Linked DNA regions of Homo sapiens: region 2 is linked to region 1. Evidence: fine-mapped expression QTL. A gene starts in region 1. The other region holds a variant in brackets. All regions are shown on one strand. Distances are from middle to middle. Region 1 holds the start of MICAL3 (microtubule associated monooxygenase, calponin and LIM domain containing 3). Region 2 overlaps MICAL3 (microtubule associated monooxygenase, calponin and LIM domain containing 3).

The links.
Region 2: its variant is fine-mapped to the expression of MICAL3 in whole blood (TOPMed, PIP 0.99).

What each region holds. Positions count from the first base shown.
Region 1 is chr22:18,022,012-18,027,380 of GRCh38, forward strand. MICAL3 (microtubule associated monooxygenase, calponin and LIM domain containing 3) reads right to left here and starts at 2,550. Exons shown (of 32, transcript NM_015241.3): 1 at 2,270-2,550. RefSeq lists a silencer at 2,278-2,687.
Region 2 is chr22:17,993,961-17,999,329 of GRCh38, forward strand. The region is part of intron 1 of MICAL3 (microtubule associated monooxygenase, calponin and LIM domain containing 3); the gene reads right to left. Among named protein-coding and RNA genes, the nearest start is that of MIR648, 16 kb to the left of the region's middle. RefSeq lists enhancers at 1-388, 389-889, 2,481-2,680. The variant G/A (reference allele first, on the strand shown) is at 2,842.

The DNA of each region.
Region 1 (5,369 bases):
GTGGGTAGATCACATTTTCTAGTTTATGTAAAATTTTAACATTTCAGACCCCCAGTTTTAAGACCTTATCTAATTTCCTTGAGCCCCTTAGTCATTGTGAACTCGCTGTGGAGTGTCTGCCTCCACCTGCCTTGGTGTTTATGAACATTCATGGTAACTTTAGAAGGCAAGGGTTAGAGGAAACTTTTTGCCGCCCACCCCCAGTCTGCAACAGTACCTGTGGGGAAGATTTTACCCTGGGACTCCAATTTTCAGGGAGAGGAAGTTTCTAGGATTTCCCATAGGCTTACGAGGGACTCGCCATGTGGAAGGATTTTAGGCCTGAGAAGGATAATAACACTTTATAATTTCTAGGTGATCTTATTTGTTGCCTCTTCCTTCTCCAGAGTGACTACTGCATTCCGACCTGCACCCCCACCCTTTTTTTTTTCTTTTGAGACAGAGTCTTACTCTGTCACCCAGGCTGGAGTGCAGTGGTGTGATCTTGGCTCACTGCAACCTCCACCTCCCTGGCTCAAGCTATTCTCATGCCTCAGCCTCCCGAGTAGCTGGGACTACAGGCATGCACCACCACACCTGGTTAATTTTTGTATTTTTAGTAGAGACTGAGTTTCACTATGTTGGCCAGGCTGGTCTCCAACTCCTGGCCCCAAGTGATCTGCCTACCTCGGGCTCCCAAAGTGCTGGGATTACAGGCCTGAGCCTCTGCGCCCAGCCCCCTCTTCTGCTTTCTAAGTGTCCATTCTCCTTGTAGTGAGTGGGTGGTGGGGGGATATACACATGTGACTCTGGTTAGTACATAGGCAGCCATGAAGTCCACAAATGTACAGGGAGCCACAGCTTTCATGCTACAGACTTGCAAAGGTATGCATCTGCTTTCCCCTTGCCCTGGAATATAGATCAGAACACTTCATTTAGTGAAGGGACCTGTTCCGAGAGTGATGATCCCTCCCTCGTTTGAGACACTGCCTTCATCCTGAGCTTCTTGGAGCAGCCCAAGGCCCTGCCAGCTCTCTTTGCCTGTAGCTTGTAGGCATTTATGACAGTTGCATACCCTGCCCTCCAACGGCAGCCTGAGAGACTGAACTATTACCAAGTTCACCTGGAAAAATGTCACCCTGATTGATTAGAATGGTGGGTGGCCATCTTAGCTCATTAGAATCACCTGGGAAGTTAAAAAAAAAAAATCCAGTATGCACTCCAAATTTTCCCACCACCACTCCTCCCCACAAAAAGAAAATTTAAAAAATCCCAGTGTTTGGGCCATATCCCAGACCAATTAAGTCAGAATCTCCAGGGATTGGACCCAGGTAGCAGGATTTCTAAAAATCTCCCCAGCAGCCAGGCCTGAGAGCTAATGAATAGCACCACAGGGCCCAGCCTTTCAGCCTACAGCTTGTCTCGGTTTCACCCTTTTTTCATTTCTTTACAATGAAAATTCTAAATAGTTGATCACAGTGCCAGACCAATAAGAAAGCATTTTAGGGAGGAGAGAGGAGGGAAGGGGTTGGCAGGCACGGAGAGGACTTGACACACAGAAAGCATTTTGCTATGGAGTCATAACCATTTGATTCTAAGACACATGCAGCCTCCAGAAGTCATGCGGCCCCGCCCTCTGCTTCCAGGAGGGAATGAACTTGGCCGTCCTTTTGTTGCACACGCCCGGGAGCTGCGCCGGCGCAGCGCGCCCTGCAGCCTGGGAGCGCAAGCGTGTGCGCCACTGGTCCTGGGCCACCACCGCGCGCCGCGGGCGGGTGCAGGGCCCCTCTGCCGCAGGGAAACCGGCGTTCCCCGCGCAAAGCAGCCGCTGCTCCTAATGAGCTCATGGGTTCACCGCGCTGAGCTAGCCAGAGCGGACCCGGCTTCGCCAAGGGCCTGCTGGCTGTCCTGACACCTGGCCTACCTCGGGGGTGCCTGGGTACGCTCTTCCTTTGCCTGCGGGATAGAAGCACAATGAAAATGGGGTGGACGTGGCTGGGAGACAGCCCTGCTCTCTGGCAGGCTCTGGGGAGTGTGTGGTACGTGGCATCCGCACTGGTGGGTGTCGTGCGATGATCGAGACACGGATACTGGGTGTCTTTCCCACTAGGGGAGAGAGGGCTGCGTTTAGAGGGAAACGAAATAGATCCGAGAAACACAAAGATGTCACAAAGGAAACGCTTCCCCACCATAAGCAATCTAAATAAATGATTCTTAGAAGACATCCAGCAAAACACATAACCTTGTCATTTAGATTCGCTCGCCCACAGGGGGACTGGAGGGTACTCACCGACTAGGGCTTCACAGCCGCATCACCGCCGGCGGTGGGCGCCTGCCTCGGCAGGGGCAGGGTGGGTGCCCGCAGGGCACAGGTGCCGCCGTGGCTGCTCGCACAACCCCTGCAGCTGCGATCCCGCCCAGTTAGCCTCGGGGGCTGCACAGCCCAGCCCCCTCGCCCAGGGCCCAGGGGTTCTCAGGCCGCGCGGCGAGGACGGAGGGCTGCCCCGGGTGCCTGCCTACGCGGGCGCTCCCCGCCGGGACTCCGCCGGGGCTGCAGGAGCGCGCGCTGCTGGCTGGGCGGGCTGCGGCTCCGCGCGAGCGCCGTGGCAACGCGAGCGGGCGCCCCCAGGAGGCCGCGGAGCTGCGGCGTGGGACGCTTGGGTGAGGCTCAAGCCAAAACCAAACCCAAACCATTTCTCCTCCTCCCCATCTTTTCATTTTCTCCCCTTCTTTTCATTTTCTCCCCTTCTCCAACCCCTTCCTCGACACACGTTACTAGCACCTCGAAGGTTGGAAATTCCAGCACTCTCCTGAGGCCTCTTCCCCAGCGAATCCTGCTAACCACGCAGTCGGTGTTCGCTGTGTGTTCGAGCACACACCTCCTTGCAGTGGCTTCAGCACCCAGGTCTCCGGGAGCCAGTGAAGGAACCAAGTGTTGGATACTGAGCAAGTCGCGTAACATCTGAGTAGTCGTGAAATTGAAATTTCAACGGTATAAAGGACACGACGTTGTCTTACAGATTGAAAAATGCTATAAAATGAAGTTCTTACTGTTACTATGATGATGACCCTGGAGATCAGCGCAGAGCCCTGGGGGAGGGCTACAGTTGCAAGCGCTCCAAGGATCAGATCGCGCACTCCTCCCCACCGGAGAAAACCTCTTGATGCCGGAGCCCGGGCAGCCTCTTCCACACTTCCAGCCAGCCCCTTCCACACTTCCAGCCAGCCCCGGCATTGCCACAGCCCGTGGAGCTGGACAGAAATCCACCAGGCACTAAAATAAGTTAGATGGAAGACGGGATGGATTTGACCAAATTCCTATCAGCATCTGCTCAGTATAATTGCAACATTATAATCAGAGCAGAAAGAAGCCCAGAGATTATTTTGTCTTCAAGGATCATTGGCCTCAGTATTATCTCCATCTGAAGCTGTGTTGTCCAAAGCAGATTGACTCCAGCCGGCCAGCTCAGAAGAGGGCCGACTCTGGGCTGGCGACTCCTTGAGAAGGGCTCTCTCTGGTCCCAGGTGGTATTTACTTAACCGTATCATCATCTGCTTCATTCGTGTTCCCTTCATGTCCATCATGTGAGGACGGGAACTGACAGGGCCAGGGTGTCGGCTCAGAGGCAATCTCTGCTCATCCTCTAGAGCCCCACTTCATCACCCAGCCACTCTGTCCACTGTCTCCCCACCTACAAACCTGCAGGTGTTCTGCCCCAGTACTAGAATAAGGGAACACATTTTTACTGAGCTCTGACAATGTGACTGGGCTTTTCAGGAGCTATTTCATTTAATTTTTAATGTAAAACATTGTTTTACATATTAAGAACCTAAAAGCACAAACAGTAAGTAACTTGCTTGTGGAAGCTTATGCAGCGAGATAAGTGGTAAAGCTGCAATTCCCAGTTTTGTTTGATGCCACAGCTGAAGGTGCAAGGCCATCTGGGCACGGCCTGAGTGGATATTAGGGAAAAATGCCCTAAAAGGTCCAGAATCTCTAATAATTTCTCCTACTTCTCATTTTATTTTATTTTTGACGCTGGAGTTTTTTTTTTTTTTTTGAGTCAGGATCTTGCTCTATTGCCCAGGCTGGAGGGCAGTGGTGCAATTTCAGCTCACTGCAACCTCTGCCTCCCAAGTTCAAGCGATTCTCCTGCCTCAGCCTCCTGCATAGCTGGGACTACAGGCATGCACCACCATACCCAGCTAATTTTTGTGGAGATGGGGTTTTGCCACATGGCCCAGGCTGGTCTCAAACTCCTGAGCTCAAGCGATCTGCCCTCATCAGCCTCCCAAAGTGCTGGGATAACAGGCATGAGCCACTGCACTAGGCGAAAACGTTTATTTTAGAAAAACTGAAAAATATAGAAACATAAAGGAAGAAAAGCATTCATAATCTCATCACCTAGAGAAAGCCATTAGTAATATTCATATTTCTTTCCAGTCTTTTTTCTAGCTTTCTAGCTTTAAACTAAGTTGAGATAAAACCACACACACACACACACAGACACACAAGTGCATCCTGCTTTTTGTTAAAAATAACTTTGTGGGAAATTCTTCCTCCTTTGAGGATTTTTAAAAAACATTAATTTAAATGTCATACAATATTTTTATCATATGAATATCTCATAATTTCCCTTTTATTGAATATTTCCAACTTTTATTGATTGTAAATAATGGCAATAAAATTTTTTCTTCATAAATCTTGCTCCTATGTGTGAATAATTTCCTTCCAGGTGAGTCCCAGAAGTGGAATATTGAGTCCAAGGGTATTAACATTTTAAAGACTTTCCAATCCTCTCCAATGGGGATATCCAACTCACCCAGCCCCGTTCCCCACAGGACCTGCACGGTCCCACTCCACTGCCCTCCACACATCTGTTGTGCCCTCACCTGGTATATAGCATTTAAATTATTTAGCTCACAAACTCTTTGGGAAACTAGGGTTAGTTCTTTGTAGCTTTTTGGTTGATTATTTTGATTTACTCAGAAAAACGCAGTATCTCCTTTACTATTTTAAAATCCTCAATAAGTAAGAATAGGGAGAGAAAATAAGAGAAAGGGGTGAGCTTTCCAAGGCCCTGGGTTAAGCCAGGGATGCCGGAGCTTGGAGCTCACTTGATACTGACCCTGCTGATGGCCTCAGCCTCAGTCCTGCTATAGAAAAGCTGCCCTGTCCCTCTGATCCTCACGTTTTAATCTCAGCATTTACTGCTGATGGGATGATTGGGTAAATTGAAAAACTTGTCAGAGAGGGTTAGGCTTTGATGGGTGGGGTAGGGGAGACCTCTCAGGAAAAGCAACTAGAGTAATAGAACTGTCAAAGGTTGGCAATAAGGCTGTGTGATCTCGCTGATGGTTCTCCAAGATGAAATGAAACCTAATGCTGC
Region 2 (5,369 bases), 28 kb before region 1:
GCCCTCTGTGCCCCACTTCCTAGTGTGAAAAGCAGGGATCATAACAGCACCCCGTCTGTCCGCTGTGGTGAGGACTGAGCGCGTTAAGACACGTGGGCACTCAGGACAGTGTGGCATGGCCAACAGTCTCTAAGCATCTCTGATGCTGCCATCGCTGCTGTGCTCATCAGCGCCAGGTGCTGCTCTCCCACCCCTGTCCCTGTCCCATCACAGCCTGACAATTCTCAGCCACAACAAGGAGCTTTGTTGGTGGAGGAGGGAGGAATATGGCTAGAACCTCTGTAAGCTGACTTTCTGTGGGCTGGGGACAGTCCACGCTAAAGGGTAGCTGCCATTCCCCTGGGGGCTCCAGGTGCCAGGAGTGAGCACTCTGCATCTTCCCCCTGACCAAGCTGCTCCTCCTCTCTTGGCTTCCAACACTGGCACTGGCCTCCCGGGACCCATGCTACCTCCAGACTTCAACTGGCAACAGAAAAGAGACAGAGGGCTGGGTGCAGTGGGGTGCCTGTAATCCCAGCACTTTGCAGGGATCACCTGAGCCCAGCAGTTCAAGACCAGACTGGGCAACACAGAGAGAGCTTGTCTCTCCACAAAATTTAAAAATTAGTCGGGTGTGGTGGTGTGGGCCTGTAGTCCCAGCTACTCAGGAGGCTGAGGTTGGGGGATGGCCTGGCCCAGGAGGTCAAGGCTGCAGTGAGCCGAGATCATGCCACTCCAGCTGGGGCCACTCCAGCCGGGGCCACAGAGTAAGACTCTGTCTCAAAAAAAAAAAAGAAAAAAAAAGAAGCATGGGCAGGAGAGAAGAGAAGCCTGGGACCCACTAAGGTTTATTTCGCCTTTACACAGGAAAAGTCAATAAAAGCCACTAGTTAACCACAAGGCTGTGCTGTCCATCCCTCTCCTGCCAGAGTTAACCAGACCGAATCTCCTGCCAGAGTTAACCAGACTGAATCCTTCAACAGATATACAATTCAACAGACACCTGCAGACGTGCCTAATGCAGGAAGACTCCTCACTAGATTCCCTCACACATAACACACATGCACTCTGAGCTGGGCGCTAGAGAGACACGGCCTAACAGAACACGAAAAAGATACTGTTGTCCTTGCCAAGGTCCTCACTACTTAGCAGAAGCTCTTGCCCTTCCGCTTCCACCTTTCATCAAGGTATAAGCCAACAGTCTCACTTCTTCTCTCTTCTTTAATCTGATTTCTGTCCTCCCTTTTTCTTTTAAGAGACAGGGTCTCACTCTGTCACCCAGACTGGAATGCAGTGGTGTGATTATAGCTCACTGCAGCCTCAAACTCCTGGCCTCAAGTGATCCTCCCACCTCAGCCTTCTGAGCAGCTGCGACTATAGGTGTACACCACCATGCCCGGCTAATTTTTAAAATTTTTGTAGAGACAGGGTCTCACTATGTTGCGCAGGCTGGTCTCAAACTCCTGGCCTCAAGCAATACTCCTACCTTGGCCCAGCCTCTCAAAGTGCTGGGATTACAGACGTGAGACATTGCACCCAGCCTTTTCTTTAATTTTTTTTTTTTTTTTTTTTTTTTTTTTTGGGACAGTAGGGTCTTGCTCTATCACCAAGGCTGGAATGCAGTGGTGCGATCTCCGCTCACTGCAGCCTTGGCCTCCCAGGCTCAAATGATCCACCTACCTCATCCTCCTGAGTAGCTGGGAATACAAGTGTGCAACACCCACACCTGGCTATTTTTTGTATTTTTTTTGTAGAGACAGAGTTTCACCATGTTGGCCAGGCTGGTCTGGAACTCCTCACCTCAGGTGATCTGCCCACCTCGGCCTCTCAAAGGGCTGGGATTACAGGCATGACCCACCACACCTGGCCTCTTTTCTTTTTTAAAACTGCGGCAATCATCTCTCCTCTGTTGAACTCACCAATGAGAAAAAGTCAATGGGGCCAGGCATGGTGGCTCACACCTGTAATCCCAGCACTTTGAGAGGCTGAGGCAGGCAAATTGTTCGAGCCCAGGAGCTCTAGACCAGCCTGGACAATGTGGCAAAACCCCATCTCTACAAAAAATTTTAAAAATTAGCCAGGCTTGGTGGTGCACGCCTGTAGTCTCAACTACTCAGGCAGTCAAGGTTGCAGTGAACCATGATCGCACCACTGCACTCCAGCCTAGGTGGCAGAGTGAGATGCTGTCTCAATTTAAAAAAAAAAAAAAAAAAAAAAAGGCTGGGCACAGTGGCTCACACCTGTAATCCCAACACTTTGGGAGGCCGAGGCCAGTGGATCACAAGGTCAGGAGATCGAGACCATCCTGGCTAACACGGTGAAACCTTGTCTCTACTAAAAAAAAAATACAGAAAATTAGCCGGGCATGGTGGCAGGTGCCTGTAGTCCCAGCTACTCGGGAGGCTGAGGCAGGAGAATGGTGTGAACCCGGGAGGCGGAGCTTGCAGTGAGCCGAGGTCGTGCCACTGCACTCCAGCCTGGCCCACAGAGCAAGACTCCATCTCAGAAAAAAAAAAAAAAATGCAATCAACTGCAAGGCTTGGGGTGACAGTTTCCTGGTCATTCTTCCCAGTTTTTTTGTGTCTTTATAGCTAGAGATGACTAAAGCCCACCTCCAAGAAAACAGCAAGTCACGTACAACTGAAGCCCATGGGGGCAGGATGCTGTTCTCTCCACCGGGGCAATCCAAGCACCTGAGTGTCTGACACCACCCATCACCCAGGGGATCCGAGCTGAATTCTAAAGACTGGAACCAAAGATGACAGAGTGCGTGGCTGGAGAGAGGGGGAAGTCCACAGAGTTTAGGTAAATTTCTGAACCACATCCCCACCACGCCCACAATGTACTGCATTGAAGTACACC[G/A]GAAGCTAAAGACCAAAAAGGAATCAGATTTTCAGCTCTGCCACCTAAAGCAGAAACTGAGGGCCTTATTCACCGCACAGACTTTAGCCCAAGTGCCATGCCTCCAGTTTCACAGTTTCACCAGCAGCTCAAGCAAAATGGCCTGGACACTAAAGATGGCCTCTGGGTCAGAGTATCACTCATTTCCTCTGTCCACAAACCACTTTGATTCTCTTTGATTCTCTCTGTCCCTCATCTCCCCATCTAGTCTTTTTTTTTTTTTTTTTTTTTTTGAGACAGAGTCTTGCTCTGTCACCCAGGCTGGAGTGCTGGAGTGCAGTGGTGTGATCTCAGCTCACTGCAACCTCGGCCTCCTGAGCGCAGGCAATCCTCCCACCTCAGCCTCCAGAGTAGCTGGGACCACAGGTACACACCACCACGCCCAGCTAATTTTTGTACTTTTTGTAGAGATGGGGTTTAGCTATGTTGCCCAGTCTGCTCTCAAACTACTGGGCTCAAGCAATCTGCCCACCTCAACCTCCCAAAGTGTTGGTATTACAGGCATGAGCCACTGCGCCCGGCCCATCTGGTCTTATTAAATACTTCATTCTCTGCAAATGCAGACGTTTTCTCAGCTCTGATTATTTTTTCTAAAGTAATGACCCCCCACCTGGCTAGATGAATGCTTCTAGCAAAGGAAAAGACCAGAATGTGAAAATTGTACTGCAATAGAACATAAAGCCCGTCCAACCCCACCTCCCATCAGACCTGGGGTGGTGGCAGCAGCAGGCGTCAGGGCTCTCAGGCCTGCCCATTAGTCATCCCTAAGGCCCGTTAGCACACGGGTTAGGAGGAGCACACACTCTGGAATCAGAAAGCCCAGGATTGAACCCAGCCCTGCTTTCAGTCAAGGCTTTGTCACTCACTATCACTCCCTTGACCTAGGACCTCACAAAACCTTGTCATCCGTAAAACTGGGGATGATAAGTTCTACCTTGAATGTTGTTGTGAGGAATAAATGAGGTAATGTCTATGCAGCACCTAGCACAGATTCCTGCAGATAAACACTCAATAAATGTTAACTATCATCCACTACCTAGTCATCAGAAAAGCACAATGATCTGGTATCTTTAAGTCCTTCCGCTTCCAAAAAAAAAAAAGAAAAGAAAAAAGAAAAAGATGTGTGGATTTTTTCCCCCTAAAGGTCTCAGTGAAGTGAAACTTAAGAAGGAAAACCTGGGCCGGGTGTGGTGGCTTACGCCTGTAATCTCAGCACTTTGGAAGGCCAAGGAGGGTGAATCACCTGAGGTCAGGAGTTCGAGACCAGCCTGACCAACACGGTGAAACCCTGTCTCTACTAAAAAATACAAAAAATTAGCAGGGCGTGGTGGCAGGTGCCTGTAGTCCCAGCTACTTGAGAGGCTGAGGCAGAAGAATCGCTCGAACCCAGGAGGCAGAGTGCATGAGCCAAGACTGCGCCATTGCACTCCAGACTGGGCGCGACAGAGCAAGAGACTCCGTCTCAAAAAAAGAAGAAGAAGAAGAACCCAATTCAAATCCCAGTTCAGGGACCAACTCATTTGCAACTTAAAGCAAATCATGTTACCTCCATTTCTTTGCCTATAAAATGGGAATAATAGACTCTATTAAACTTTAACGACTTCAGAGACAATTAAGAATCAATGAGATAACAGGTCATGAAAAAGCTTTCACTTCCTCAAGTAAAAAGCAACTAAGTAGTAAATCCAGAGCATAATAATAATAATAATTATTATTATTATTATTTTTTTTTTGAGATGAAGTCTCGCTCTGTATCCCAGGCTGGAGAGCAGTGGCGTGATCTTGGCTCACTGCAACCTCCACCTCCCAATTCCCGGTTAAGCAATTCTCCTGCCTCAGCCTCCCCAGTAGCTGGGATTACAGGCGCGCACCACCACGCCCAGCTGGTATTTTTAGTACAAACAGGGTTTCACCACGTTGGCCAGGCTGGTCTTGAACTCCTGACCTCGTGATCCGCCCGCCTGGCCTCCCAAAGTGCTGGGATTACAGGTGTGAGCCACCGCGCCGGGCCCAGAGCATAATTATTATTAAAATGCCAGGCCCCATAATATTATGGAACATAAATAAGCCAATGATGGCTCTTATTTTTTCTAGAACATTAGATTTGATGCCCTTTTCGTCTGTTCACATGGAACCTGCTACAAGACGGAGAAGGCAAATGGCTGCTCCTAGCAGATCCCAGTTCAGAGGCACGGCCCAGCAAAGCTAGCACTCTGCCAATGGTCAGGCTTCGACCATCTGGGCCACTTCCCAGAAGCCAGTGCCAGGAGAAATTAGGTAATTCATCTGGTTCCACCTGGACATGTGAAACCAACGACAACCAAAATCCTCACCTGCAGGACTACTCGACAGATGCAGGAAAGGGTCCCCTTTGACCCTCTGCTCTTCTGTACTGAATGGTGTACCACTCTTCCAGGGCATGTGCCATCCTTCCTTTAAAGGGCAACACATGATCCAGGAAGAAGAGCTCAATTTTTCCTTATTTTTAC